2 separate regions of the Homo sapiens genome follow, and region 2 is linked to region 1. The links come from fine-mapping of genetic effects on gene expression. A gene starts in region 1. The other region holds a variant in brackets. All regions are shown on one strand. Distances are between the middles of the regions. Region 1 holds the start of TIPARP (TCDD inducible poly(ADP-ribose) polymerase). Region 2 has its middle 52 kb from the start of TIPARP.

Evidence for each region. PIP is the estimated chance that this variant, and not a neighbour inherited with it, causes the effect.
Region 2: its variant is fine-mapped to the expression of TIPARP in whole blood (INTERVAL, PIP above 0.99).

Annotation. Positions count from the first base shown.
Region 1 is chr3:156,673,290-156,676,198 of GRCh38, forward strand. It overlaps TIPARP (TCDD inducible poly(ADP-ribose) polymerase), which reads left to right and starts at 1,301. Exons shown (of 6, transcript NM_015508.5): 1 at 1,301-1,507. TIPARP-AS1 (TIPARP antisense RNA 1) reads right to left here and starts at 2,424. Exons shown (of 1, transcript NR_027954.1): 1 at 1-2,424. RefSeq lists an enhancer at 797-1,096 and silencers at 1,507-1,556, 1,587-1,656, 2,027-2,386.
Region 2 is chr3:156,621,130-156,624,038 of GRCh38, forward strand. No RefSeq gene overlaps it. Among named protein-coding and RNA genes, the nearest start is that of TIPARP, 52 kb to the right of the region's middle. The variant C/A (reference allele first, on the strand shown) is at 1,394.

The DNA of each region.
Region 1 (2,909 bases):
TCTACAAGAAGGCACAAAAGGACAGAAAAGAAACAGAACAAATGAGAAAAATAGAAAGCCAACAGTAATATGGTAAACTCAAATATTAGCTTCTAGGCAATTCTATGTATGAGTAGACACTGACCAAGATCTTGTCTCAATAAGATTTTAAATGTAAAGATTTTCATCTTTTACCTATTGTCCTCTGAATTCCGCCCATATCATTCTCACCTTAGTTTAATGGCCCTGCCTTGATGCAATTTGAAATAAGCTGCTAAGGAGATAACACCCTTAATCTATTCATTGCTGGTGCGCTTACCCAGTCTGGTTTAGAACCGTTTAACAAAGGCTTAGAATCATAATGTCTATGATTATTACCTCTTAGCTCCTAGTTTTACTGACTTCCATGTCTGGAATTACCAGCACTTCTTTTTCGTACATATGGATTATATGAACTAAATGTATTGTTTCTTCCCTCACTACTGAAAATCTATTCAATATATGGAGTTACAATTCAAAGTATTTTACAACCCAGAAAATATGGCCATTCCGTATGTGGTGTGTATTTCAGAGGTGCTCTGCAAGCTCCATGAGGACAGGCGTGAAGTTCAGGCTACATGCCTGGTACGTAATAGACGCTCTGACAGACATTTGCTGAATGAATAAGTTAGTCACTACGGCGTTTGTGGGCTTTAAAACACAAGTAAATGCGCTTCTATCGCCAAAACCTCACAGCTTCCCTTCTGCAAGGTGGCGTACAAGGCCCACGAAATAGTCGGCCGCCGCAGGTGCGCAGCCTGTCCAGCCTGTCCGGCTCGGGGCAGGCGACCTCGTCTGGTGGCAGTGGGGGAGGCAGCCGTTTGCTTCCTCACAGGGTGTGCCGGAATCAGAGGCTGGAGGCGTCTGGGGAGTAGGCAAATAAACAAAGCCAACCGCACCGAAACGGGTCGTTCCGTTTCACATCCTCCCTCGGGTGTCTGGGTCTTCTCGGAACAAAGTGACCCTCCATCTGTCCGCAGGCAGGTGGAGCCCGTCCCACGCGGCACGCGCCTTCCTTCCTCACAGCCGCGTGTAGACGCGGACCCTCAGGGACACTGCGGACGCGAGAAAGGACACGCCCCCTCGCGGGAGCATAAGTCCACCGCACAGAACTCGCGCGCCTCCCCTCGAACGAACGCGCACGCGCGCGCAGGGGGCGGGTCTTCTTCCCGACACCCACTGAGCGCCCGGCCTCCTCACCCCACCCCACCGAACTCCGGCCGCCCAGGCTCCGCCTCCGCGACGGGCCGTCGGGAGGAGGCGACCGGAAGCCACTTAAAGCAGAGATCGAGGTGACAGGCGAGCTGGCTGGACTCGGAGCGCGGTCGAGGCTTTCTGCGTTCGCGGCGGCGGAATGGCCCGTGCGCGGCTCGCCGCGTCGCGGCTCTGTGGTCCCTAGACGTCGGCTCCCGCCCTCGGCGCTGATCTCCGGCGCGGGCACTGCTTTCCACTCGGCTCCTGTCGTCCGTTCTCTCAGGCTCCCGTTCAGGTAAAGGGCTCCGGGAGGGCACTGAGGGGCTGAAGAACCCTAGCGGGGAGTGCGAGCGCCGGCCTCGCGGCTCCGGCCCCGGCCCCGGCCCCGCGCCGGCAGTGTGCGGGGCTCTCGCGGATCGGGGTGATTGATTTTGAGACTGCCCTTTGTACCGAATTCACTCGGGTCCCGTCAGCATGAAGATGGAATTGGTTTACACTTCTTAGGCACTTAGAGCCTGTGGCAGGTGTATACATCAGACCGAGGCGCCGAAGGATTTAGTTGGGGTCGCAGGCGCCTGCCCCTTCCCCGTTCGTCAGGGTGGGGGCGCGTCTATGCGGCCTCCCCCGCGGGCCGACCCCGGGTGCTCTGAGGCGCCTAGGAGCCCTTCCCAGACCCCGGGGGGGAGGGCACGGCAGCTACGGGAGCCTTCCGGCTACCCCGCGTTTCGGGCTGCAGCCCAGAAGTTTGGAAGATGTTTTCACATTAACTTTGAGAGCGCACAAGTCTTCGTCTTCCTCCCCGCCGCCGCGGGAAGCGCTCGCCGCCTTTCCCCCGCGCTTCGCGGCTCAGTTCTGCGAGCCCCCAAGACCCGTTGGACGCTCCTCGGGAGGTGAGCTGAGGGGGTAAAGAAGAATTAGAGAGAGAAGGCGCCGCGAGTAGTCTCTGGGATGCAGGGAGGCCGGGGCGGGTCGTTGGTCCGAAGGAGGCTGGACAGGAGTTGGGGGGCGCCCAGGCGCCTGCTGAGGGGAAGGCGGGGGCGGGGACGCCCGGGAACACCCGGAATTGCAGAGCCGGGCGGCGCCTCAGCTGCACTGCGCGGAGTTGGCGCGGCCCGGGACCAGGAGCTGAGCAAACCGCCGCGGCCAACAGGAGGCGTCACTCGGACCCGGGCTCGGCGCCGGGGTGTCGCGCGGCGGCGGGCGGGCAGGCTTTGGAGCGGCAGTTTTTTCGGAAAGTGCTTTTGGCCGGGAGTGCCGCAGAACCCCAGCGTCACGAGGTGAGGGGTGTCGCGGTGTGTCGCCTGCCGCTGGAGACCGGAGGATGTGTTCTTCTCATCTTTATTTTTCTGTTATGAAAACTAATTGAGGAGCTAGGTTCTAGTGGCTTTCCCCCTCCAGCCACTTCTCCAGTTCTCTGCTTCTTCCTCCCAGTTTTGTTTCCGAGTTTGATGAAAGGGCAATAATAGGAAAAGTTGCGCGCGCGCGCTTGCGTGTGTACGCGCAGACACACATATAAATAAAATCGATTTAGTGTCTATTTTACCTTGATTGGGTTTGATAGGAGTGGTTAGAGAGTGTGCGCGTGGGGAAAGCACAGGCCGGTTTGGTATGGTGGAGAGGGAATACCACAATCTGTGCCAATTGTGCCTTGAGGCAATAACACCAAATGATGAATAATAACGCCTGGCTTGGCTCCT
Region 2 (2,909 bases), 52 kb before region 1:
GTTGGTGCAAGTCATCTGGGAGATGGGTATGTGGCAGGCTATGTTTGACCTGAATACCCAGAGGCCAGATGATGAACGTTTCACCTCCCACATGAGGGATCTTGTGTTGGGTTCTGTGCTCCGGAGTGCCTCTGCCTCCCTAGCTGCTGTCCTCACCCTGTACATAGGGCACCACATACATGAAGTGACCATTGCTGTGACAGCTCTTGGGGAAGCAGAAGGCTGTCAGCAGGACTGAGGGGTCTATGCCATAAAGAAGGGGAAGATGCTCTGCCCACAGGGGCCCCCCCATGGGAGAAAAGAGGGCCCCAACAAGTAACATGCTCACGGATGTGGATAGATTTGATTTTGACCGGGGTTGACCGAGAGAAAATCAATAAGCAGCCCAATGAAGTACTCTTAACTTTGTGGAGATAATTGTCTCTGGAGCAGCAATTCCAGAAAATGCCCAACGGGGAGAAGGACATTGCTGCGTGACCCAGTCCCACCCGGGCACTTCAGCTCAAAGACTACTTGCTGCAGCCAGGTGGAAATGTAGAGCCTTTTCTGTTTGATTAGGAAACTGGCTGAGGTGCCCATCTTGGGGGGACACCAGACAACCAGCGACCACGTGTGGAATTAGTGATCCACTGGTCTTCCACTAGTGTACAATGGGTGCTGGTGCTGGTGGATACTGGCACAGATTGTGTCCTTGCTTATGGGAACCCAAATAAATTTCAGGGCTAACCTGCTTACATTGATGGATATGGAGGCTGGTCAGTGGAAGTGAAACCTGTATCTCTGCACCTTGGCATCTGCTGTTTGGCTCCCCATTTATATTCTGTGTATTTCTCTCCCATACCAGAATACATTCTGGGGATGGACATTTTACATGGCCTGGCATTACAAACCACACCCAGGGAATTCAGACTCTGAGTGTGTGTGGTGAAGCCGATGCTGCGTGGACATACATGTCACCAGCCTCAGGTCCTGCCACAACCCTGACAGGTTACTTCCACCCATCAATACTGTTTGCCAGGTGGGCATACAGAGATAACTGAGACAATTAAAAACCTGGAGGAGGTGCAGATAGTGTGTGGCACCCACAGCCCCTACAATTCTCCAGTGTGGCCAGTTAGAAAGCCTAATGGAACTTGTTGGATGATGGTGGACTATTGGGAACTGAATAAAGTAACACCCCCTTTGCATGCAGCTGTACTGTCAATCATGGATTTGATGGACTGTTTGATGACAGAACTGGGACAGTATCACTATGAAGTGGACTTGGCCAATGCATTTTTCTCCATTGACATTGCTCCAGAGACCCAGGAACAGTTTGCCTTCATGTGGGATAGGCAACAATGGACTTTCACAGTGTTGCTGCAGGGCTATGTGCATAGCCCCACCATATGTC[C/A]TGGTCTAGTTGCAACAGATTTAGCTGCCTGGCAATGTCCAGAAGGGGTCCACCTATTCCATTATATTGATGATATCATGTTAACCTCTGATTCTCTTGCAGATTTAGAAGTGGTGGCACCCCTCTTGCAGCAACATGTAGCAGCATACGGTTGGGCCATCAATGAATCCAAGGTCCAAGGGCCTGGATTAGCTGCCAAATTCTTGGGAGTTATCTGGTCAGGTAAGACAAAGGCCATCCCAGAGGCTATGATTGATAAGATTCAGGCATATCCCTGGCCCACCACAGTGAAGAAGCTGCAGATTTTTGTGGGGCTCCTGGGATATCAGCGGGCATTTGTGTCCTTTTTAGCTCAAATGATAAAATTGTTGCATTGGTTAACAAAGAAGGGAGCTCCCTGGGATTGGGATGATGCGGCTGAGACCGCCTTCCTGGCAGCCAAGCTGGCTATTCAGCAGGCACAAGCCCTATGGGTAGTTGACTTGGGGCACCCATTTGAGCTGGATGTGCATGTGACCACAGATGGTTTCGGCTGGGGGGCCTGTGGCAGTGCATAGAGTGCTTGCAAGTGCCAGTAGGCTTTTGGTCCCAACTATGGAAGGGAGATGAGCTCCAGTATTCCCTGATAGAGAAACGCTAGCAGCTATATATGCTGCCCTTCAAGCTGTGAGAGTGTGACAGGATGGGCTGCAGTCGTCGTGTGGATAACTTACCCAATAGTGAGATGGGTGCATTCATGGGTAACGACCCCCCAGACTGGGACGGTGCAGACATCCACTTTGGCAAAGTGGGGTGCCTACGTGGAGCAGCAGGGTACACTGAGTACAAACCCCTTAGCAGCAGAGTTGCAAGAGGTCTTGGGACCTGTAGTCCTAATGCAAGATAAGGCCATGGGGCCTGAGGCAGCCCTAGACCCTGAGCCTTCACCATTTAAGGAAGGGCATCCCTCAATTCCTGATGGGGCATGGTAAACAGATGGGTCTAACTGAGGTGCTACTGCAGCCTGGACTGCCGTTGCAGTCCAACCTTGTACTGACACCATATGGTTGAAACCGGGTGTGAACAAAATAGCCAATGGGCTGAACTTAGAGCAGCATGGATGGTGATCACAAAGGAGGTGACACCTATGGTAATCTGTACCAATAGCTGGGTGGTCTCTCGAGGCTTAACCTTGTGGTAACTACCTGGCAAATACAGAAGTGGCTAGTTGGCCACTCACCCATTTGGGGCCAAGCCACGTGGCAAGACCTCTGGGAAATGGATCATCAGAAAGAGGTAATTATTTATCACGTGTCAGGCCATATGCCTTTGGCCACCCCTGGCAAGGATGAAGCAGATGCCTTGGCCAAGGTCTGATGGTTAGATTCAGCACCTCCACAAGATGTGGCTTTGTGGCTACACTGGAAACTGGGACGTGTGGGGGGTAAACTGATGCAACATGTCAATAAGTGTTGGGGTCTGTATCTGCCCGTACAAGATATTTGTGAGGCTTGTCAGAAATGTCGGGCATGTACTC